Linked DNA regions of Homo sapiens. The protein of the gene in region 7 interacts with the protein of the main gene of each other region in a pairwise test. Each region holds a gene or a part of one and is shown on either strand. Other genes may lie near its edges.

What was found.
Region 1: the proteins of RNF8 (region 7) and FAM118B interact in binary tests that used the Homo sapiens proteins (3 or more experiments, as listed by UniProt).
Region 2: the proteins of RNF8 (region 7) and ZBTB10 interact in binary tests that used the Homo sapiens proteins (3 or more experiments, as listed by UniProt).
Region 3: the proteins of RNF8 (region 7) and WASHC3 interact in binary tests that used the Homo sapiens proteins (3 or more experiments, as listed by UniProt).
Region 4: the proteins of RNF8 (region 7) and PGRMC2 interact in binary tests that used the Homo sapiens proteins (3 or more experiments, as listed by UniProt).
Region 5: the proteins of RNF8 (region 7) and MAD1L1 interact in binary tests that used the Homo sapiens proteins (3 or more experiments, as listed by UniProt).
Region 6: the proteins of RNF8 (region 7) and HOMEZ interact in binary tests that used the Homo sapiens proteins (3 or more experiments, as listed by UniProt).

Annotation. Positions count from the first base shown.
Region 1 is NC_000011.10:126,256,782-126,260,124, reverse strand, and holds part of FAM118B (protein FAM118B), read right to left. Parts: coding exon 3,273-3,343; coding exon of another isoform or gene 3,255-3,272; intron 1-3,254. UniProt on the Homo sapiens protein: May play a role in Cajal bodies formation.
Region 2 is NC_000008.11:80,496,226-80,499,725, reverse strand, and holds part of ZBTB10 (zinc finger and BTB domain-containing protein 10), read right to left. Parts: intron 233-3,500; coding exon 1-232. UniProt on the Homo sapiens protein: May be involved in transcriptional regulation.
Region 3 is NC_000012.12:102,044,992-102,048,491, reverse strand, and holds part of WASHC3 (WASH complex subunit 3), read left to right. Parts: intron 1-2,372; coding exon 2,373-2,438; intron 2,439-3,500. UniProt on the Homo sapiens protein: Acts as a component of the WASH core complex that functions as a nucleation-promoting factor (NPF) at the surface of endosomes, where it recruits and activates the Arp2/3 complex to induce actin polymerization, playing a key role in the fission of tubules that serve as transport intermediates during endosome sorting.
Region 4 is NC_000004.12:128,270,814-128,274,313, forward strand, and holds part of PGRMC2 (membrane-associated progesterone receptor component 2), read right to left. Parts: intron 1,705-3,500; coding exon 1,549-1,704; intron 601-1,548; coding exon 503-600; 3' UTR 1-502. UniProt on the Homo sapiens protein: Required for the maintenance of uterine histoarchitecture and normal female reproductive lifespan. May serve as a universal non-classical progesterone receptor in the uterus.
Region 5 is NC_000007.14:1,816,946-1,820,445, forward strand, and holds part of MAD1L1 (mitotic spindle assembly checkpoint protein MAD1), read right to left. Parts: intron 1-3,500. UniProt on the Homo sapiens protein: Component of the spindle-assembly checkpoint that prevents the onset of anaphase until all chromosomes are properly aligned at the metaphase plate.
Region 6 is NC_000014.9:23,276,133-23,279,632, forward strand, and holds part of HOMEZ (homeobox and leucine zipper protein Homez), read right to left. Parts: intron 1,056-3,500; coding exon 1-1,055. UniProt on the Homo sapiens protein: May function as a transcriptional regulator.
Region 7 is NC_000006.12:37,370,983-37,374,482, forward strand, and holds part of RNF8 (E3 ubiquitin-protein ligase RNF8), read left to right. Parts: intron 1-529; coding exon 530-592; intron 593-3,500. UniProt on the Homo sapiens protein: E3 ubiquitin-protein ligase that plays a key role in DNA damage signaling via 2 distinct roles: by mediating the 'Lys-63'-linked ubiquitination of histones H2A and H2AX and promoting the recruitment of DNA repair proteins at double-strand breaks (DSBs) sites, and by catalyzing 'Lys-48'-linked ubiquitination to remove target proteins from DNA damage sites.

The DNA.
Region 1 (3,343 bases), on a different chromosome or scaffold from region 7:
GGGAGGTCAAGGCTGTGGTGAGCCATGACTGTGCCATTGTACTGCAGCCTGGGTGAAAAAGCAAGACCCTGTATCAAAAATAGTAATAATAATAAAATAAAAATAAAGCTGGCACAGTGGCTCACGCCTGTAATCCCAGCACTTTGGGAGGCTGAGGTGGGTGGATCACGAGGTCAGGAGATCGAGACCATCCTGGCTAACACAGTGAAACGCTGTATCTACTAAAAATACAAAAAATTAGCCGGGTGTGGTGGCGGGCGCCTTTAGTCCCAGCTACTCGGGAGACTGAGGCAGGAGAATGGCGTGAACCCAGGAGGCAGAGCTTGCAGTGAGCTGAGATTGCGCCACTGCACTCTAGCCTGGGTGACAGAGAGAAACTCCATCTCAAATCAATAAATAGGCCCGGGCATGGTGGCTCACGCCTGTAATCCCAGCACTTTGGGAGGCCAGGGCGGGTGGATCATGAGGTCAGGAGACCGAGACCATCCTGGCCAACATGGTGAAACCCCATCTCTACTAAAAATACAAAAAATTAGCCGGGCATGGTGGTGGGCGCCTATAGTTCCAGCCACTCAGGAGGCTGAGGCAGGAGAATCACTTGAACCCAGGAGGCGGGGGTTGCAGTGAGCCGAGATTGTGCCACTGCACTCCAGCCTGGCGTCAGAGCGAGACTCCATCTCAAAAAAAAAAAAAAAAAAAGTACCACAACGACTGCTTGTATGGTAATGGATTATAAGAATTATTTTTCTTTTTCCCACTGCTTGATTTTTCCAAAATATGTGTAACTACATACTATAGAATCCTTTGAAGACAATTAATTTCCACTATGCAAAAGTGAGTATACAGCACAATGCCAGGCACATAGCAAAGGTTCAGTGTTAAAAAACAAAATAACAGCAAAAGACCTGTAACCTCTCATTAGTCTATATCTACAGAGACTCAAAACATTATGCAAGGGTGAAAGATAAGGTTGACTCGTTTCAAAATGAAATGATGTTTTAACCTGAAACTGCTCTACTACATTTCACATGACAAACTCAGCTGACCATTCCCATAAAGCACTCTGGCCATACTGAAAATCCTTGATTTTGTTTAAAGATACAGAACACCTTAATGATGGGTAACTTCGGGGAAAGCTACTCTGGTAGGAAGCCTACACAGCTAATAAAAGAATTTGTGCCATTCCACAATAGCAGTTAAGGTTCCTTAGAGCAATCTTAGTGCACTAAGGAACCTTACTGCTTCTTTGTTATGTAATGCAACAGTCTAAAGACATATTTATTTTTTGCTAAGATTTAGTGCAACAGAAACAGTTATGCAGACGGATTTTGCTGTTTTAAACTTTAGCATCTTTCCTCAGCATATAGATCAAAAGAAATATGTAGAACTTGGATATGTATGTCTTGTTAATGAAAACAACATGTGCAACAGAAAAGCCTTCTCAAAGTCTCAAGTGTGGGCAAACAACAGCAGGAGAGTCTAGAACACTGCAGGACACCAGAAAAACTCATTTCCAACAAAGAATAGTAAATAGTTTTCACAAATGAGACTTGTTCATGTGGTGATGGCTTTTAAAAGTCTGGTTCCATCAAAGCATAGCCATGGAAGAAGCTGTGTAATTTTTCATTACAGGAGAATTCTACTTGAAGCCATCTGATTCAGTTAAGAAATCTGGGGATGATTTGATTTAGGAAAACTGCTTTATGTTTATTAAATTACCTGTATGTTATTTATTTTAGAAACAGCGTCTTGCTTTATTGCTCAGACTGTAGGGCAGTGATGCAATCATAGCTCACTGCAGACTCCAACTCCTGGGCTCAAGTGATCCTCCTGCCTCAACCTCCCAAGCAGCTGGACTACAGGTGTGTGCCACCACACCTGGCTAATTTTTTGCAGAGACAGGTTCTCACTATGTTGCTCACACTCATCTTGAACTCCTGGCCTCAAGTGATCCTCCCACCTGGGCCTCCCACAGTGTTGGGATTACAGGACAAATTACCTGTACTTTTGCCCTCCTAAGATGCATTCAGGTTGACAATGAAAATACTTACATAAGTTTTCAGGAAATATTCTGTGCACAACAGCCAAGTTTTTTTGGAATTAGATGGATGAGTCACACTAGCCATACTCTGGAGCCTGGCAATGTGAGGTTTTGAAAAAGCATTCTTCAGTTTAGCTGATACCAAAAATGTTTGTGTTTTGTGCGGTTACTGGGAATTTGCCTGCAGCCACTAATCAGCTGAATCTTTAATCACCATTTTGCTCTTTATTGTTAGAATGTGGAGGTAAAATATCAAGTGTATGATACCCCTATCCTCTGACTTGAATATCACCATTATCCGTTTCCAAATAGCATTTCTAAAAGTAAGTTTTCTGTTTGTAAATATAATACATAATCATCATAGAAAATGCCAATACAGAAACCAAAAAATCAACACTTTAAATCCTACTAAAGATAGCCACTTAATTTAGTAAACATTCCAGATACATTTCTACACGCACCAAAAAAAAAAAAAAAATGTACAATTCTATATGAATATAGCTGACCATGGTATTTACAACCTGCTTTTTCTTCCTTTACTCATATGTCTCTAACTTTTTTTTTTATGGCAATGAAAACACTTTCCCTTCTATGGTTTCATTGTATTTCATCAATTAAATAAATATTGGCATATCTGTAGAATCTCCACCAATTTTAGGATCCTTCCAATTTTTTGCCACTACATTCAATGGAAATTACATTCCCACGCATGCATCTTTGTACAATTGTGTGATTGTGCAATCATCCAATTATCTCCTTATGAGAAACTTCTAGGATAAATTGTTTTGATGGGATTTCTAGGTCAAAGATTTGAAAATTTTTGTTACATCTTCTAATTTATGGTCATAAAAGTTGTACTAACTTTACCTTTCCACAAATACTCCATGAATAAATTTATTTTCTCACAGCCTTAGCCAAAATTGGGTGATCTTTCTTCGCTATTTTGTAATCTAAATTCAAACTGCATTTCATTGATAACTAGTGAGGCTGAACATCTGTTTTCTTCATTCTTCCTATGTCTATATTGAACTGCTCAAGTATTCCTTTTTGTCTGTCTTCCCATAATCCAAGTGGCACTTTAGTCTAACCTGAAGACTGTGGCCTCCTTTACAATTTGGTCAGTCATTACATTCCTCATCTTGGCAACTATTTTGCCCATCACATCACAAATACACAAAAGGCTGAAGAGCTGTTGTTCTCTGATTCCCCTCAGCTTCAAAATGCATCTTACCTGATGTACCCCTTGTGGAGATCTCACATGTCAGTCGCTTGAAATATTCTGGAAGATCGGCATAGTCATCT
Region 2 (3,500 bases), on a different chromosome or scaffold from region 7:
TAGGGCTTTCTTTGTTTGAAAAGCAATATAAAGTCTTAAAGAAACGGCTGCCTGCAACCAGGATGTTCTTATGAGCTTTGAAGATTTTTCCGCTTACCACAATGCTGACATCACAAAGAATACCTTTCTTTCTCTGTTCATTTAGTTGTCGCAGAAGTTGATAGCAATAAGAGTTCTCATTTGGCCTACTATTAAAGTCACAGTACCCCTCCTCTGATGGTATTTCTGACTCCTGTAATTGGATAAAAAACATTAATATTAAACTTTATTGACTTTTTTAAAAACTCCCAAACCAAGGAAAACAATTATCAAGTTTTTAAAAAGCGATAATCAAATATATTAATTTGTGAGTAATCAAGAAATGGAGTGAACAGTGGTGGTGCAACCCACTGCTATTATTAAAAAAGAAAAAAATCAAACACATCTGACTGAAGATCAGCAGGGTTTCATTTTAAAAATAACATTCATCATGTTATATGTTTCAAATATAAGCTAAGAACATGAATTGAGAATTTCTTAAAATTAAAATTAAAAAGAGCAATTATTTTCTTAAGAAAAGAAACTTTCTCTTATAGGAATTAAATGTTTGCTTTATCTCTATAGAAAAGCAACAGTCTCCCCCGATTGAACTTAAAATATCCAAGTTATATTTTATGCTAGGCATATCACCCTATCTACCATTAATAAAAAGGTAAATTTTAAGTCTTGGCAAACATTAAAATCAAACAGTTTAGGTCAATGAAGTTAATTAAATCTAACTAGAGATAAAGGTAAGACCCTAAGGGGAAAATTTGCTTCAACTATAGGAATATCTAGTTATATAATTTCCTATCAACTTTCAAAACGCTTTATCTCTTTAGGGTCATAAGTACTATAAACTGTAAGGTAAATTAAAATTCCTGAATTCAAAATTCTAAATGTTTATAAATTTTGCTTCTTATCATACAGGTATTCATTATAGTTCTACTTGGCGTCACAATTAAAATTATGTGATATAATCGTAAGAATAAAAGTATGATCCAGAATTCAGAATGCTGTCTGTATCAGCCATTAACTGCGTGTCCTTGGAAAGTCACTATCCCTGAGCCTTTTCCTTAAACGATAAGTCAGTATTACAAATGTTAGTTAAAACTTTATGACTTTCCTCATACAGTGACTAGGTGGGTAAGCTCCCTCAAGGCAGAGCTGAATATCCCTCCAGCACTTTGATTAGTGCCTGCCACACTTTGCTAAACAAATGAAGTAATCATCTCTTTCCCAAGAGAAAAATTGCTTAGACCATTTCTAGTAGAAAAGATAACTGAAAATACTGACCTTATTCAAGTGTCAATTCTTTGGCACAAAATATTAAGTTAAACATAGACCATTTCTATAAAATAATAAAATATATACACATATGTATGGATCTATGATTTTACGAGCATGGAGAAAAACATGGAGAAATAAACACTAGAGTGTAAACAGGCTCAAAGTACTGACATGCTTAGAAGAGAGTTAGTGGTGTAGAGATGACGAGACTGCAAAAGTAGTCTCACAAACAATATCCTAAATGGTGGATCCCTAAACAATCACGAAACATGACTTAATGCAATCATGTGCATGGCTAAATCATAAAAATTTTAGCTTTACTTGGGTGCATGTCACAGGAGGCCACAGACGCTGTCATCTCAATTCTCTGAAACTAACCCAGTCCATCTAAAAATTATAGTGCTGCTCCCAGGTATGAGAAGTCAACTGAAAGAACCCAAATAATATTCCAGGACATGGCCAGGCATGGTGGCTCACGCCTGTAATCCCAGCACTGAAAGGCTGAGGTGGGTAGATCATTTGAGGTCAGGAGTTCAAGACCAGCCTGGCCAATGTGGTGAAACCCCGTCTCTACTAAAAATACAAACATTAGCTGGGCAGTAGTGGGGCACGCCTGTAATGTCAGCTACTTGGGAGGCTGAGGCAGAGGTTGTGGTGAGCCAAGATCATGCCACTGCACTCCAGTCTGGGCAACAGACTGAGACCTGTCTCAAAAAAAAAAAAAAAAAAAAAAAGATTCCAGGACACACTTCAACTGTTTCACTGTGAAAATGGAATAGTATGAAAAACTCTACGAATCTGGAGTATATGATCACTACAGAATGAAGCACACAAAGTAGAGAAATTTCCTCATTTTTGACTGATCCTTGGCAACCTTCCCATACCCTTCTTGTGCCAAGTGCATAAAGCCCTTATACCAAAAAACTCCCACCCATGCCCCCCCCCACCATATAATAATGTTCCATGCTCTAAATTAGCTATTTTCTCCTCCTACCAAAAGATCCAATTCTGCAAAAACTGTTAAGTCACGGATAGAGGAATCAAAACAAGTCCATTCATGAGTAATACCCTTATTTTTGTTTTTGGGGAACTGGAGAAAGGAAATAAGGTAATAATGAGACTTATTTAACCTAAGCTCTTGTATTAAACCAGTATGTTGTATTGGATTACTGCAAATATTTGGTTAAAAGAAAAAAAAAACCAGTATGTTGTGAAATTTCGTATCATGTAGCAAAGAGGAATGAACAATTTAGGACTTGTGTGAAAATGTAAAGAATGATACTAAAAACACCTGTAACAATTACTTGGACAGTGTAACTTTCCACAAAAGCATCATTCTGTTTACTTGGTTTCCCTTTTGAGACTGAGTAAATTTTATTAATTTGCCTATGCTCTCTATAGAAATTACAAATAAGGGGGAAGAATCTTGCTTTGATACAGGCCCAACACTAAAAGCTTTGTTACACAAGCTGTACCTGAACCCAAGCTCATTTGGTTCAGTGTTCAATCTACTATATATTATAGTAAAAGCATGAATATTGTATGAATATTTGGAAGAAGCAAAAGTTTTCAACACTAAATATCTGGCAGCATATATCTATGAACTGTTTGTGGAAGCAGTGAATTAGCATGTACAAGTCAAGAACTGCCTAAAGTCCGTATATCAAGCAGTTGAAAACACTTCAGGAGGTGGCTATGCCTACTGTAGCAGTCATAACACGCTATGGTCACTGCACCCTGAATTTTCTGGGCCAGTGCCAATTGTTAAGATTCTCTGCCTTTATCATACCAAATGTCCTAATTTTTATAACTAAGACAAAAGCCTATCCACCAAAATATCTGCCCATTCTACTTTGACACAAACTGTACAAATTAAACACCATTCAACCACTATTTTTTTTTCTCATTACTATGGTACAAGAACAAGAACATTAATGTCCCTTGTTTTTATAACCAACAACAGCAATTTCTTGTTCACCACTGATTAAAGCACTATTCCATATGTTTGCAGCAGCTATTAAATATGCCCTTCAAAAAAAAAAAAAAAAGAAACCACATAAATAAATATGACCTTCAAAAAAAATGAATCATTTCCAAGAGTATGTGTACTCTCTAAGGAGATCATTATTAGAGGATTTGGGTTAAAGAGCTAAATAAGCACAAAGCACTAAAATAAACTGCCAATATCATTT
Region 3 (3,500 bases), on a different chromosome or scaffold from region 7:
CCAGGTTCAAGCGATTCTCCTGCCTCAGCCTCCTGAGTAGCTGGGACTGCAGACGCACACCACCACACTTGGCTAATTTTTTTTGTATTTTTAGTAGAGTTGGGGTTTCACCATGTTGACCATCCTGACCTCAGATGATACACCTGCCTCGGCCTCCCAAAGTGCTGGGATTACAGGCATGAGCCATTGTGCCCAGCCTATGGTGATTTTTTTTTTAACTATGTTTTTAAACAATGCTGAATTTAAGCTAGAAGTAGATAAAAATAAAGGTAGAATTTTTTCTCTCATCCTAGTTCATGTACTGTAGTTCAGAACCACTTTGTAAATGATCATCTCAGAATCAGAAGAGCAAAAGGCTTTTCCTCTTGGCACAGAATCATCTTAGTGAGAAACGAATTGATCATTTGTTAGCTTTGGATAACAAAAATTCTGTGCAATACCCAAGAATTTACCATTATGTTTTAACAGTGTAAAATTATCTCAAAAAAATCTCGTGAAGTGTATTGCCTCTGGAGTTGGAGGGTTTGAGTTCAGGATATTTTACTTGTATGAGACTCAATTTTCTCATCTTTAAAATTGGCATAATAGTTCCTACTTTATAGATTTGGTGTAAGATTTCAATTGATATGTTGCATATACACTGTACCATATGTAGCAAGGTAAATACTCAGATATTTACAGTATTGATGATTATTGCTTAAAAGTAAATATATAGGTATATTAAAACAGAAAAATTTTTAATTCCATTTTTTTGTTTCCTTTTGTGTTTCCTTCAATCAAACCAATATGTCCATTTTTAAATAAGTTGGAAATTCTCATTCACTTTACATATTAATTTGCTGTGGAATTTTTTCTCTAGTGAATTGAGACTGATTAGATTTGCCAAAATTAAATTTCTATGATTTTAAGGAATACACTTATAATTTGGAGAGGGATTCATTCATAATACATGTTATAAACCTGTATTGGTGTTTACCTAAAAGCCTTATGTGAATGAATTCTAGAAGTCAAGGGTAAACTTAGCTTTGATACCATGAAAACTAGATCCTAATACTTTATTTGTAGATTATGTCTTTGTCGATATCAAGATGCTAAACTAAAAATAAGTGATCTGTAAAGAAGCACTATCTGCTTTGTGGCCACTTTCAGTTTTTTGCCCCCTCTAATTGTGGGCAAAGTGACCATTTCACAGGATGGTAAAGTTCTACTTAATAGTCAGGATCTTAATAATATCCCAGAATACAATCAGGATGCTGTGTATCTGCCAGCTTGTAAACTGGGCAACTGCTCTTGGATTATGTGACTGAATATAATGTTTAAGATTAGGAGGTTTCAAGTAAATGTTCTTTACTTGAATGGTCATATTTTATGATGCTACCTTTCTTTGTATAGGTGTATATTTACACAGAGGTACATTGACAATTTAATTATACAGAGTAACAAGCATGATAAGCTCTTCTATCTGGTTTATCTTGCATTTTGATAGTAGATTTTAATACTCTAGTTTTTTCTCTTCTCTTTCCAAAATGAATTACTCATCTTCCAATTCCATTCCCCTTTATTTTTCAAACTACAGATGTTTAAATCTGGGACGAATTGTATATGCTGATGCATTTAAGTAATTTATAAAGGCAGACCTTGTTGCAGCGTGTCTTTGAATAATTTTTATTCTTTTATTTTCTATGAAAAAATTTCTTCATTCATCAACAAATAATTATTAAGCTCCTATTAAGTGTCAGGGTACTATTCTGGGCACTAAAGGTACAGTAGTAAACAAAAGGCTCTGTCCTGGTTTGTTTATATTCTGGTCTCAACAATTGTTTACTGCTCTGATAATGAGTTTGCAGAAAATGTCAACTTTGTTATAAGTGAATATAATTTTATAAAATAACTGAGAAGCGACTGGGTGCGGTGGCTCACGCCTGTAATCACAGCACTTTGGGAGGCCAAGCAGGCAGATCACGAGGTCAAGAGATCAAGACCATCCTGACCAACATGGTGAAACACTATCTCTACTAAAAATGCAAAAATTAGCTGGGCGTGGTGGCACGTGCCTGTAGTCCCAGCACTCGGGAGGCTGAGGCAGGAGAATCACTTGAACCCAGGGGGCAGGGGTTGCAGGGAGCCGAGATCGCACCACTGCGCTCCAGCCTGGCGACAGAGCAAGACTCCGTCCCAAAAAAAAAAGAAACTGAGAAGCATTATAATACACGTAATAGAAGAGTTCTCATTCCTACTCATGTAAATAAGACAGTACTGTATTAGAATATGACAAATATTTAATGGTTTTTAATATTTTCATATCTGCCCTTAGTTATTGTTAACAGTTTATTTTAATTAAAGTCTTTATGTCTCTAATTTTTCTTTTACAGAAACTGGCAGACCTTTCACTTCGTATCCAACAAATTGAAACAACTCTCAATATTTTAGATGCAAAGGTTGGTATTTCTCAATAATTTGTAGTATAAACTTTGCTGTGCATATACCAGCTTTCTTAATCATACTTAATTTTCATTGCATTTGGGAGTGATTCCATTTAACTTCTGTATCTGTGAAGTGATACTGGTTGTGTTTTTAATTTTACTGCAGTTGCAAAGAAAATGGTGTTCATTATGAACCATTAATTCAAATGTACACATGGTTTGCGATTTCTTTCATTGTGCTAGGCAAACGCATAATGCGAGTAACATGTTAACAAGCTGAGCTGTTATCTAGTTCACTTCATTTGATAGAAAATTCCAGATTTATTTTACTAGTTATTATTTGATAATACAATACTAATATAAATCTTTAGATGTCTCAGAGCAAATTTTAGAGACAATATCAGCTGTTTCTATTTGCAGATACCTTAAATGCTAATGAGGAATACCAGTTTTGATGTCAGAAATTGCAAATAATAACTAAGAAAAATAGAAGACTGTTTTAGATTGCAAGCTTAAAGATTTTGATAACAGTGATGTCTTTGGTTTCATTTTTAATATTTTTTTACATGTGTTTTTTCTGTTTATAAAGTTATGGAGACACTAGTGTATTTTCATGACTAACTTTCCTGAAGTTAATATTTTCTTTGTCCATTTACCAAAATAAAACTAAGAAATATTCTGTAAATATTTATGAGGAAGAAAAAAATGATATCCCTTTTTAATATGACCAGAATGTCTAGTTTGTACTTTCTACGTCTCTTTATGGACTTCAGCAACTGTGTTTCTCTTAGAACATTTCTCTAGTTTGGAAACCCGGTCTTGAACATGTTCAAGATAGTCCTCTAGCAGCCATACCCACTTGAAACTATTTGGGCCATAGCCACTGTGCTAACTATGGTTATCAGTCAACAGTTCTCAATGAGTATTGCTGCTTGAGATCTTATTACCATTGGTTTTTTTTTTAATTATTATTCTTTATAATGAATATGTGTCTTATTTTAATGTGAATATGTGTCTTATTTTAATGTTTAAGGAATTCCTGGGAGTTAGAGTCCAAGGTCGCACATTAAATGACCA
Region 4 (3,500 bases), on a different chromosome or scaffold from region 7:
CTGAACAACTCAAATTGATGTGTACCCCCACCTCCCCTGATCAGGTCGCCTCCCTCACCCATGTTAAAATAAAAACACAGTATGTGACACAGGAGTCCCTTGATGTTTCTTGAGGAGATCTGTACACTTGAGTAGCAAATACATATCTGGTTGTCTTCAATATATTTTAAAAAGAAAGAAAGAGAAAGAAGAAAGGAAAGAAGGAAAAAAGGAAGGAAAGAAGTAATATTGTGACTTTCTTGCTCTTTAAAAAAATCCCTGTCTCCTTCTTTTCAGGATGATGAAGCCCCACTAGACATTACAAACAACTGCAACAAATGAGTTTGGCAGCATAAATAATGTCTAGTTATTCAAATCTTCATAGTGAGATTAATTTATCTTGTACACAATTTGTTGAATGTTTTTCGCAGCAGGTGAATCAAACCCAAAGACTCCGGACAGTCTGTGAAAGGGAGTAAGAATTGCAGTTCTGAAGGCCCCTGACTTTGGTTGTTTACAAAGTTCAATCCTGTTTATTGTGATCCTTGGTATCTTCTTCATCTGTATATTCTGATGGTTCTTCTCCTGGTTTTAGGAGTCTGCCTACATAATCATATTTTTCTGAAAGATACATCAAAAGAAAATCAGTGGTGATCAAATTTGTTTCACTATTCCATTATACAGAGAAAAGGCATTTGTCTGTTTTAGAATCATATAAAATATGATTATTAGAATATTATCTAAATATTCTAAAATTGCTTCACCATGGCTGGTCTTTATACACATGTAAAGCCTGAACAAAAGAAAACAGGATTAGGGAACTTATAAGGCTTGGGAATTCTTTGCAAGAGGGTGTTCTGTACCAGTGATTCTTAGTTGGATACTGCATCAGAATCACTTGGAGATCTTTTTTAAAAATGAGTAAGTCCAGGACCCATCTCAGTACCCAGCTAAACCAGAACAGCTGTTCCAAGGGACCCAGGGGTCAGATAAACAGCTGGGACAGCATCACACAAGTGGTAAAAACTGATGTTATGAGGGCATAAGAAAGGGGAAAGATATTTTTTATCTACATTTCGAGTGTTAAGATCTGTAAAATCATTTTGGAATAAATTATAGTATTGAAATCAGTAATCAACTCAGTTTTAAATATAAGCCTGTATTTTTAAAAAACTAAACCTTAATGAAGAAGCTGACTGTAAGTATCACAATTTTTGAGGCTTAGAATTTGTAACAAGTCATTTTTTTAAATATTGATTTTCAAAATAATTATCACATGTAACAATCATATTTTTATTTAGCTATTTTTTGCAATTTCTTTTTTTGGACAAGTCTCACTATGTTGCCCAGGTTAGTCCTTGAACTCCTGAGCTCAAGGGATTCCCATCAGCAGCTAGGACCACAGGCATGTGCCACTTCACCCAGCTTTAGCTATCTTTAAAAATATTATCAAATAATGATGGCAATGAAAACGGATGACATCCTTAGGCTCTTAAAGCATGTAAAATAGTATATATTTTCTTTGAACAAATATTTAATTTTCCAAAGAATCCAACAAAATAAAAATACCTTTAAACTGCATTTCCCATTCTCGAACACTCTCCATTTGTACTGCATTCAAATCTGAGAGATCATCATATTCATCTCTAAGTGCATCTTTATCTAGGCAAAATGTGGCCAGTCCTCTGGAGGCATCCCTACCAGCAAATATTCCATATGGACCCGCTGGAAAAAAGAAAATAAATTATTTAGATCACCTAACAATATTTTAGAATGTCTCAAAGGAAAAAGTAAAAAAAAAAAAAAAAAAACACAACAAAGAAAAAAACCCCTCATAATTCACATTTGTATATACCCTTAATTTCAAAACATGTACAGATACTAGATGGAATAAGAAAAGAAATTTGTTGGAAATCTGCCTTTTGACCCAAGTAAAGCTTTTCACTTAGATCTTAAAACCCTCAATTTCAATTACTTCAGATATCCCCAAACTTAATATTCAAAATGAAGACTGTGAGGTAATGAGGGAGAAGAAGAAACTTAAGTGGTTAGGTTTAGAAGCCAGTCTGCTTGAGGGGAAATAATGTTTACTGGTTGCTGTTAATAGTGGCATCAAAAAAATAAAAATAATCAACAGAACATCATGTATTATGTAAAGACTCAGCTGAACTTGAATCTGTAACATTTTTCTTTCTGCTATCCTTATGAAGGTTGTAATTCTATGAGAAAAGAGACTGTATCATCTTTGTGGTCCCAGTGACTAGTTCAGTGCTCAACACGCATTTAATAAATCTTTGCTGAGTGGTTTAATAAAAAAAGACCCATATTCAAAATAAATCATCTGACTACCATAATATATATACAATGATCTATATAAACTAGGAAAAGTCATTAAGGAAAATAATAGCTCTTACTTGTCATGACTTTTGGAAAACAGAGGAAGTAGCTATAAGGAATAATTCTTCTGGACTGACACATTAAGCAATAATTAGCATTTTATCCAAGGAATTGGGTACCATTCTCTCTGAGGAGAAATGGCATGACTGATGTGTTGACAAAAACCATTCCCAAGGTTTGTCCTTGAGAACAGCAATTTGTTCATCAATTGAGGATTTGTATCCTCAATGCCTAGCACTGTGCCTGGCATAAAGTAGGAACGTAATAATTTTCTTCCAAATGACTTAGCTGTAGTTCCGAATAAAAAGAAACTCAAGATTCTGTAAACAGATTCACTTATGGTAGGCAAAGACACTATTATGAACAACAACAACAGAGTGGTGAAAAACAGGGCTTATAAATAAAAGAACAAAGTATGTTCTGATAAGTAAACAAGCAGAAAAAACTAGAAATTCCTTGATTTTTAAATGAGCGAAATGATTATATTCATATATAAAAGTATTTAGGAAACTGAAAGTTATGTGTCAAAAAGTCTCTGTACCTTCTGAGAGTAGAAATCGAGGTTTCACTTAAATAGATATCTAAGCATTTATGAGTATTAATTTGAGTTGCTAACAGCACTGTACTATAAAGTTAACCAGATGTGAAATTCATTCTCTGAAAAGTTTACTGCATGGAACTAGAAGTAGCATTAGCAATAATTTTAAGAGTAGCATTCATAGGTATTGATACAGTAACATGAAAGTAAAGCTAACAGTTCCAGTAAAGTACATTTGTATTCTGCTTTTCTTATTCTTATTGCATTTTCCATATTGCTACATCGTATCACATGACTATCAACAATTATTTATCATTGAATGGTTATATATTATCCCACTGAATGGATGTGTACCTGTAATTTATTTAATCAGTCTTATTAACATAGGCTACCATTTTATACTTTCAAATGTGTCTTCTATATAAGAATATGGAACACAATTTACCACTGGCCAATATTCGTAACCTTCAAACTTTTTCTATCATCTCAACTGACATTCAAAAGGGTATTAACCAGGCCAGGTGCGGTGGCTCATGCCTGTAATCCCAACTCTGTGGCAGCAGTGTTGAGGTCAGCAGTTTGAGAC
Region 5 (3,500 bases), on a different chromosome or scaffold from region 7:
CAAAGCTCCCTCTGAAACCACGTCCCTGAAAAGTCCTGTACCCAGAATATGCCCAGAACTCCCACAACTCCACCATGAAGAGGAAAGAGCCAATTAAACAAGGGGCCCTTGAACATTTCTCCAGAGAAGAGCCACACACGGCCAATGAGCTCATGCCAGGACGCTGGGCACCGGGGAAACGTGAACCGCAACTGAGCGAGACACGGAGCCGCCTCGCGCCGACGGCCACTGAGAGCAACCACCATGAGCTGCTGGGTCGAGGGGAATCAGACCCTCCGCGTCGCTGGCGGGAGCGTGTGTGGTGCGGCCACTGCAAACAGCCGGCAGCTCCTCAAAGAGCTGGACGCAGAGTCCATGGGCCCAGCACCCGCCCGGGCGCGCAGCCAGGGGGTCTGAGCGCAGTCCACGCACAGACCTCGGCACGGGTGTCCACGGCAACACGATCCCATCACCAACAGATGGAACGCGGAACCAGCCCTCAACCGCCGGAGGGAGACACAAAACCGGGTTTACCCGTCAACACCGCTTCGTACAGCCGAACTCTGATACACGCTGCCACGCGGGCAAACCCCGAAAACACGCCCAGCCAGTCACAGAGACCTGTCGACACAACTCCGTGCCCAGGGGATGTCCTGGAGGGGCACGTCAGGGCTCAGGGCCAGTGGAAATGTGCCACGGTTAGACTGGTCGCGGCTGCGCACTGAATGTGCCGGGAGGAACGGAACGGTAGACTAATGGAGCGCTAGACGTGAGGGTGAGCTGCATGTGTGTGCATCGGAGCTCAGGAAACCGTTTTGGAAAGCGCTCCCTCCGCCCGGCAGCCCTCTGGGAACCCTCCCCAGGAGCCACAGGGCGGCCTGGCTCCATCCAGCTTGGTCCTGGCAGCTCCCCTGTCCACCGGAGCATGCCTGGGCTGGGCCCCGCCCTGATGGTGTCGCCCCTCCCCTCACCACCTTTGGAGCACGTGCTGCCCCAGAGGCCCTGCGACCTGACCTGTTCCTGCACCTCCTGTTTCTCAGGAGCCGTCCCCGTGCCCTCCCCCTGCCCTCCCCCTGTTTCTGCTGCCTTAGTACATTTGGCCTTGTCATAGTTCAACACAAACCATTTTTAAACAAAAACAAGAGAAACCACTCTGACCTTTCGCTGAGAAAATCCTTTCACTTCTGCCTTCTGCTCTTGATTCTGAATTTCTCCCCCTAAATGTCAGAGGGGCTGATTCTCCTGCAGCTGCCGGGCAGGGGTGGGGAGGCAGTGTGGGAAGAAGTCTCCTCAGCCGGCCCTTCGCCCTCCTCCCAACCCAGGGCTGGCAACCTGGCTGGGCCTGACGCACTGTGGTGCAGACTCTGGCCAGGCTGGACCAGAGAATAGCTGTTTTCCAGGCACCCGCCTTCCCCGGCCCTCAGAGGCTGGCAGGCTTTGGGAGCCTGGCCGTTCATTTCTAAAAATATTTTTTTTTAGAGACGAGTCTCACTCTGTCACCCAGGCTGGAGTGCAGTGGCATGATAACGGGTCACTCAGCCTCGAGCTCCCGGACTCAAGTGATCCACCTCAGCCTCCTGAGCAGTTGGAATGACAGGCATGTGCCAGCACACCTGGCTAATTTTTAAATTTTTTTGAGAGATAGATAGACTTTAGCTATTTTGCCCAGGCTGGTCTCAAACTCCTGGCCTGGCTGGTCTCAAACTCCTGGCCTGACGTGATCCTCCTGCCTCAGCTGCCCACGACGTGAGGATTACAGGCGTGAGCTCTGATCATTCTTTATTTGAAACAGGTGCACCCCGCCAGCGTCAGCAAGACAGCTGCTCCCAATGGTAGGCCGGGCAACCCACTCACGGCTCCTACAGCACCTCCTCTCTGCCGGCCTCAGGCGGCTCTGGAAGAATGATGCCCTAATATACCGCGCTGCCCTCCAGGTGGGGGTGGGGGTGGACGGAGACAGGCAGGAGTAACCAGTGCTACTCTCCCAGCTCAAACCCCACACGAAGGCAGACCCAGCGTTTGCAAAACACCAGCCCCCGGTGAACAAGTCGACCTGCTGTGCAGCCCACCTCTGACTCCGTTTCCCCCAGCGTACCCAGCCACATTGGGAGGCTCCACCTCGGTCTAACGCTCCGGCATTAGCAGGACCTGCTGAATGAGTGGCGCCGGGCCCATCCATCTCTGCCATCGCTGCTCAGCCCTCTGCCATGTTCAAATATCACACAGTCCCCAGGTACCTCGTAAATCACTGTAATTACGGGCTGCTCACTTAAAATTAAACTGCAATTTTTTAAAAAGCAAATTGCCAGTAAGACACGTTGGCTGTGGCTGGAAATACTTCTGAGGCTGCCTGCGCGCAGGCTCTGGCTTCCTCTCCCTCTGCCTGGCCGGCCCGAGCTGCCACCTGTCTAGTCTGCGCACATAGCGGCCCTGTGGCTGGCGGGCGCCCTGGGGGAGACTGAGACACTCACTCTTAATGAAGACACTCGCGGCGTCCATTGTGGCCACTGCACTCTAGTCCAGACCCTCGCTGGCCTGGCCTGGGGCTCACCTGCCCCTCTGGAAGCAGAGAGGGCCTGCCCTGGAGGGCCGGGGACCTCTGCAGCATGTCCGTGGAACACGTGGGCCAGGGATTGTGTGCCCGGCCCCCATTCCAGCTCTGCCACGTGAGCAGTGCTCACTCGGTGCCTAGGGCTGACTAGTCTTACTAAGCGCTGGTCCCACCATCCCCTGAGCCGAGCCCCATGGTGTCCCAGCGGGCACGGACAAGAGGCACGGAGTGAGGGAGGGGTGGGGGCTGACAAAGGGCTTGGAGAGCAGAGACAGCGCACACCACCAACTCTCTCCACACACCACTTTCTCCACACACCACCAACCGCAGGATGTGGTGGGGCTCGGAGGCCAAGGGGGAAGTGTGAGGGATTCCTGTCAAGAACAAGACCCCCTGCTGCTGAGGGTCCAAGAGAAACTCCATGAACTGGGAAACTCGAGGGGAGGAAGCTAGAGATGGAATGAAGGAAGCCCTGAATCCTGGCTCAAACAAGGAAAGCTGAAATAATGCAGTAAAATGAGAAGACACGCAGGAAATGGAAACGATGCTACTTCGAGATACTGGGAAGTTATGTGAATGCTGTTCATCTGTGGGGTGGCGTGAAGAGGTGGAGGCCACACCAGTGGACATCAAAACCAGAAACCAGTCAGAGAAAGACAACAGGAAAACTGTAAGTGCCTGGAAATTAAACAGCACACTTCTAAGTAATCCACGAGTCAAATGGGATGCCTCGAAGGAAATAAAAAAGAGAACAGAATGGAAACAAGAATACAGCATAATGAAATTTGCCAGACGCACCCAAGGCAGTGCTTAGAGGGAAACGGACAGCACTCAATGCCTGTATCAGGAAAGGAGAAAGATCTCAAATCGCTTCTCTAAATTCCTACTTCAAGAAACGAAGGGAAAAACAAGCCCGAAGCAGGAGGAGGAAATAATACAAGTAGGAATGAACAGGAAAACAAAAGTTATT
Region 6 (3,500 bases), on a different chromosome or scaffold from region 7:
TTTGGTTTTGCGCTTGGTCTTTCGCTGGCGTTGCATATCTGGGGAAAGGTACTCTGTGGGGCCAACTCTACCTGGTACTGAGTTATGCCGTAGCCCTTGGGGCCAGGCTGGTTCCAGATGTGGGGGTAATGCCTGTTCACTGGGTGACACTGACTGTGGGACACAGCCTAGTGGCTGGAGGGGTTTAGAGGCGGCAGTAGCTCCATTAGCCAGTACCTGGAAAGAAGAAGAGGTAGAGGAAGAAGAGGGAGTAACACTAGATGCTGACTCCTCCTTACAACTACTGGCAATTAATGCAATTGGTGGGGGTTTATCCCGAGCTTGTGGCTGGGGGACGGTTGTGGAGTGGTTCCAGGAAGCAGTACCTATGCCATGTGACTGGTTGGGACCCCTGCCTGCCTGCTCCTTTGAGAGGCCACTGCTTTGAAGATGTTGCCAAAAATCTGATTGGTAGGGGAATGCTCCACTGCCAGGTGTCATCAGGGACTCCTTTAATTTCTGGTGACTCTGTGGCAGTGGTGGCATCTGAGAGGGCTCCTCAGGCTCTACCTTCAATCCTTTCGTCTGGGTAGGCTTGCTAAGAGTTGGAGGACCTATTCCAATACCAACTTGCTCTGGAGCTGGCACTGGAGGAGGAGGCACCTCCTCTGGGGGCCGTCCCGCATGATGAGTAAAAGAGAGAAGGGATTTGAAATGGAGTTGGTCCCGACGGTAGACTACTCGGGCTCGAGTCTCTTCTATTTCTTCAGATGACCAGCTAATACCACAGCGGAGGCGCTGGGCCATAAACCAAGTCTTGACTTTCTCCATCTGCAACCCATAACGTAGGCAGAGAAGGGCAATGTCTGCTAGGCTGGGATAGGGAAAGTAGCTGAAGGTTTTGAGCAGGTGTTCATTGCTGTCTAGCTCACTGGTCTGGGCTGCTTGCGTCCACACAAGCTGTAGCTCCTCAGAGATTGGAGGGAGGCAGATGAGCCCCGCTGGTGAACTACTGAGACCGCTGGCCTCTTTATTAGGAGGCATGGTGCCTTCTGATTTGTGCCCTTCAGAGATAGCTGCAATAAGAAGACAAACAGCTCAATCACTGGGTCTCCTCTTCTGACACACTGCTCAATTTCTACCAAACTAACTGCTGGACACCAGAACAATTTAATCTGTATTTGTATCATGTTGTATTGCTTTTTAAGTGCCTCAACAATTTCTTATTTAATTTTCATAAACTTAAGTCATCAGACCCTGCTTTAATTCCCATTTTCTGTGGACCAAAGTCCATAGACGTTAAATTACCCCAAGCCACATGACTGGTGAGTGTTGTTCCAAGAAAAAAATCTGTCTTTAAAGCCAGCCATGGTGGCTCATGCCTGTAATCCCAGCACTTCGGGAGGCCGAGGTGGGAGGATTGCTTGAGCCCAGAGCTTTGATACCAGCCTGGGCAACACAGTGAGACTACAAAAAATTTAAAAATCAGCTGGGCATGGTGGTTCGTGCCTGTCGTCCCAACTACTTGGGAGGCTGAGGCAGGAGGACTGCTTGAGCCTGAGAGGTTGAGGCTGCAGTGAGCTATGATTGCACCACTGCACTCCAGCCTGGGTGATAGAGTGAGACCCTATCAAAAAAAAAAAAAATCTGTCTTTAGAAGTTAAGAAGGAAAACTGATCCTGATATAGCTTTTTTTAGTGTGTATGTGTGTGTCTGTGTGTGTGTGCGTGTGTTTTGAGATGGAGTCTCACTCTCTCGCCCAGGCTGGAGTGCAGTGGCATGATCTTGGCTCACTGCAACCTCCACCTCCCAGGTTCAAGCAATTCTCTACCTCAGCCTCCCGAGTAGCTGGGATTACAGGTGCCCGCCACCACGCCCGGCTACTTTTTGTATTTTTAGTAGAGATGGGGTTTCACCGTCTTGGCCAGGCTGGTCTTGAACTCCTGACCTCGTGATCCACCTGCCTCTGGCCTCCCAAAGCTGGAATTACAGGCATGAGTCACCACACCCAGCTGGTGGGTTGTTTTTTTTTAAAGAGATAATATTGCTCTGTCACCCAGGCCACCCAGGCTGGAGTGCAGTGGCACCATCATAGCTCTGATACAGCCTTTATCTTTCCTATTCAAACCCACTTCTAGAAGCTATCCACCAACTCTCACCTTCTAAATTCATGGAACAAGAATCACATAGTGAAGACTCAACCACAAAAACAAGAGGAGCAATAATTTCAACTGGTTTGTGTGTGTGTGCATTTTTGTTTTTGTTTTTTCAAGAGACAGGGTCTCACTCTGTTGCCTAGGCTGGAGTGCAGTGGCATGATCATGGCTCATTGCAGCTTTGAACTCTTAGGCTCAAGCAATCCTCCCACCTCAGCCTCCCAAGTAGCTAGGACTACAGGTACATGCAGCCATATCCGGCTAATTTTAAAATTTTTTGTAGACAGGGTCTCACTATGTGGCCTAGGCTGGTCTCAAACTCCTAGCCTCAAGTGATCCTCCCACCTCAGCCTCCCAAACTGCTGAGATTACTGGAGTGAGCCACTGTACCCGGCCCTCAGAATTGTTTGTTTGTTTGTTTGTTTTTGAGCAGGATCTTGCTCTGTTGCCTAGACTGGAGTAGAGTGGCATGATCTCAGCTTACTGCAGCCTCCGCCTCCTGGGTTCAAGTGATTCTTGTGCCTCAGCCTCCTGAATAGCTGGGACTACAGGCGTGTGCCACCATGCCCTGCTACATTTTGTATTTTTAGTAGAGACGAGGTTTTACCATGTTAACCAGGCTGGTCCCGAACTCCTGACCTCAAGTGATCCACCGGCCTCGGCCTCCCAAAGTGCTGGGATTACAGGCGTGAGCCACGGCGCCTGGCCAGAATTGTTAATAACTATTTTTTTTTTTGAGACAGAGTCTTTCTGTCACCCAGGCTGGAGTGCAGTGGCGTGATCTTGGCTCACTGCAACCTCCACCTCCCGGGTTCAAGTGATTCTCCTGCCTCAGCCTCCTGAGTAGCTGGAATTACAAGCGTGCACCATGATGCCCAGCTAATTTTTGTACTTTTAGTAGAGACGAAGTTTCACTATTGTTATAAATAAAGTTTCGGTGCCACAAAAGAAATAGCAATCGAATATAAAATTTTCTTTTTTTTTTCTTCTCAGTAGGGCAATTTACTTCTATAGAAGGGTGCGCCCTCATAGATGGAGCAGTGGTGAGCACACACCTGGACAAAAGAGGGGAAGAAGTTCTTATTCCTGACACAGGTGGCCCCTGCCGCTGTCATTCCCATATTGGCTAGGGTTAGACCGCACAGGCTAAACTAATTCCGATTGGCTAATTTAAAGAGAGTGACCGGGTGAGTGGTTTGGTGGGGAAAATGGTTATGGCAGAGCAGGAAATCGGAAGGAGTCAGGGTGGAGAATGAGTCAGGGCAGAGCAGGTAATCGGAATGAGTCAGGGTGGAGCAGGTGATCGAAAAAGGTTGCTTTACAAGGAAGTTAAGTTTAAAAGTAGAAGGCAAAGAATTGAACATA
Region 7 (3,500 bases):
AGCTTCCACATTGGAGGGGGCTGATGAGGAAATACAGCATAAGCTCAGGCAAGGAGAGAGGAGGAGCAGAGGAGCAGTGTATAAACTGAAGTGGTAAAGACTCAGAATGAGAGACAAGATGGCCAGAGTAGAGGGAAAAGAAGCATGCTAGATGTTGTGAGTGCCAGCACTGGGAATTACATCTGAGTTTAGGTATTTGGGGGCTCAGAAGTTCTCAGTTTACATCCTTTTGGGAATCATGGCGTTAGTCCATGAAGGAGGCTTGGACTGTTAGGCCATAGTATTTCCAGAACAACCCAATTGGTGGCTTAAAGCCGACAGTCCTGAAGTGTGCAGTATTTGAGCAGATAACTGCTCAAATTCTTTACTGCCAACAGCTTGAAGTAAAACAGGAGATTTTCCACCTGCTCCCTCACCCCTGTTGTTTCCAGATGCTCATACTAGCTGGTCTGCTCTGCTTGTTGCTGGATTGTGTTCCTTTTTTTCTTTTCCCTGCAGAGAAACCTTCCATTTTGTTTTGGCTTTGCAGGGTTTGGAGATAGCCCAAGGAGAAAAGGACCTGAAGCAACAGCTGGCCCAGGCTCTGCAGGAGGTAACTTTGCCATAGTACTAAGATTATAGTGGGCTGTGGAGTGGGGAGCAAACAGGCATCACATGACCACTGGCTGCCTCTGCTGCTTAGCCCATACCTCTGTGGCATCCCCAGTCTGTAAACAGAGCAGGTGGCAGCTGCTCACACCATCAGATCAGAGATTTGGAGCCTTACAAACATGCCAGACCTCAGCATGAAAACTTACATCTTTGTCTGAGCAGAAGTTGCTCTGGTGAAGATGGAATGGAGCTTTAGCAGTTAAGAGGCTCTCTGGGGAAGTGGCTCCACTTCTAGAAAGGTGAGGGCAGCAGAGGGAAAATGTGAGGTATGACTTGGCCACCAGGGCCCGTGAAGGCCTCTGTTACCGCAATGTTCCTGAGCTGTAGCCAACCAGAAACAATTGGGGAATGTTCCAGTTAAGCATTTTAGGCCAGGTTGAGAATGTGCAGTTTAACAATCAACAACACATATCAATTTATTGAAAAGGTAAAGCTCAACAGGACTAAAATTCTCCTAAAAGATTGCCTGTAATTTATTTAATTTAACCTGACTACTCTCATTTGATTATTTTTTTGTGTGCTCTTTTGCATCTTTAAAACCTACTATGTCTTCTACCTTTTATGTATTATGATTAGTAGTTTAGTGCCATTTAGTCAGGATGGTTCAAATCTCATTGGAAAGAGTGAGCAAATCACATAGGAATTTGTTCAGGGGAATTTATCCTTTTATCGTAAACCTACTTCCCAACCTTAACAGTGCTAACAGTCATACAGTATTGTAAGCATGACAGGGTGCCTGCCTTGATCTCCTTGAGGGTTGCACAAACAGCTTTGGAAAGAATTAGATGAAAATTAATTCAATCTTTTTAGAATTTTATTTTTTGAGCTTGTTTATTTTCTAGGGTGGGAGAGTAGGCATGTTTCCCATTTGGAACATTATTAAGTTAATATTCAGACATTGTTTTGAAATTGAAAAAGAATGTGGTTCTGCTAGTTGGAAATCCCTGAGGGATCACTGAGTACCCTGCACCCTCTCCTGAGACAGGAAAACACTCTATCATTTTGCATGGGATACTTGGCCATGCATTTATTAGCTTAAAATGTGATACTTTTAGACCGGGCACGGTGGCTCACGCCTGTAATCCCGGCACTTTGGGAGGCCCAGGCAGGCGGATCACCAGAGGTAGGGAGTTCAAGACCAGCCTGACCAACATGGAGAAACCCTGTCTCTACTAAAAATACAAAATTAGCCGGGCGTGGTGGCGCATGCCTGTAATCCCAGCTATTCAGGAGGCTGAGGCAGGAGAATCGCTTGAACCCGGGATGTGGAGGTTGTAGTGAGCTGAGATCGTGCCATTGCTCTCCAGCCTGGGCAACAAGACTCCGTCTCAAAAAAAAGTGATACTTTTAGGTCATGGTTCTATACCATCATGCCTGGGGGACATGCCACTCTCATGCAGTGGTGGTTTTTTGTTCCACCATGCTGATACTTTTGAAAGCTGTTCTTTACCAGACCATTATAAAAACTGTTTTTATAATGGTCTTTTATAACTGATTTCCTGTTTAAATCACATAATACCTTCCTCTCCAATCTCCAAGAAACTACCACATCTTTTTAAACCGAGTGATTCATAAGTTCTCAGGGAATTTGACTATAGTTAGAAATGGGTCCAGACCTTCACTGCCCTAAGCAGTCTGCCAGTCTTTGCTTTGAGTGGAAAAGAAAATAAAAAGATGTGTTTATATACAGCTCAAAAAACTTCTCTGAATGCTTTTCATACCTGTTATTTTCTTATGAACACTGAGGGAGGAGGGGGCACCTATTTTCCCATTTCCTTTTATTTTTATTTTGAGACAGTGTCTCGTTCTGTCACCCAGGCTGGAGTGCAGTGGTGCAATCTCAGCTCACTGCAGCCTCCGCCTCCTGGGCTCAAGTGATCCTCCCACTTCAGCCTCCTGAGTAGCTGGAACCATAGGCGCGCGCCACAATGCCCGACAATTTTTTTGTATTTTTGGTAGAGATGAGGTTTCACCATGTTGCCGAGGCTGGTCTCAAACTCCTGAGCTCAAGCCATCCACCCGGCTCAGCCTCCCAAAGTGCTGGGATTACAGGTATTATGAGCTACCACGCCCGGCCATATTTTCCCATTTTATAGATGAGAAAGTTAAAATACACATATCTAATTAGTGTGTCAAGTTGAAGACCCAGGCCTTTTGACATAACTGCTTTTTTTTGTCAGGAGATCACACATTTTAAAATTTGGTTCTTGAATAATATCTTTTCAAAAATACTTACCTTTACTCCACCTTCTTTTAAAAAGAATTTGAGGTGAGATTCTAAAGTATAAGCTATACTTAAGCATGAGAGAACTCATAAATTATGTTTCATATATGTGGAACCTCTTGACATTCAGCATAGGCATTTAGTCACAATGAATGAGCTGTTAGCTCCTGGGTGTGCCTTCTTCCAGAAAACACTGGCAGGGTTCAGGCAGCATTGTCTGAGCATGTAATATGTGATTTGTAGAACAAATAGGTTAAAAATCTTTTTTATTTCAATAAAAATGACTATCTAATTCTGCTGATTCCCATTTCCTCCTGATTATTTCATAAAAGCTGCTTCCAGTTCTGAATAGCTTTTAATTACTTACTAGTTCTTAAATACTGTTCCCAGAATCACTTGGGTGGCTTTAAAAAAAAAGAAAAAAAGAAAAGCACATTTCTGGGCTCCAAGCCAAACCTATAGAAGCAGACTCTGGGACACAGTGAAAGTTCTTCAGTTGACTTGGATGGCCACCAATGTTGGGTTAGTTTTAGAGGCCCTAGTCCATTTGGTGGCCGCCTTCCCTAACTGCCCTCTCCCCTGAAAAAAGCAGCAGGTAGGTAAGATAGCCCAATGGAATAAAGGT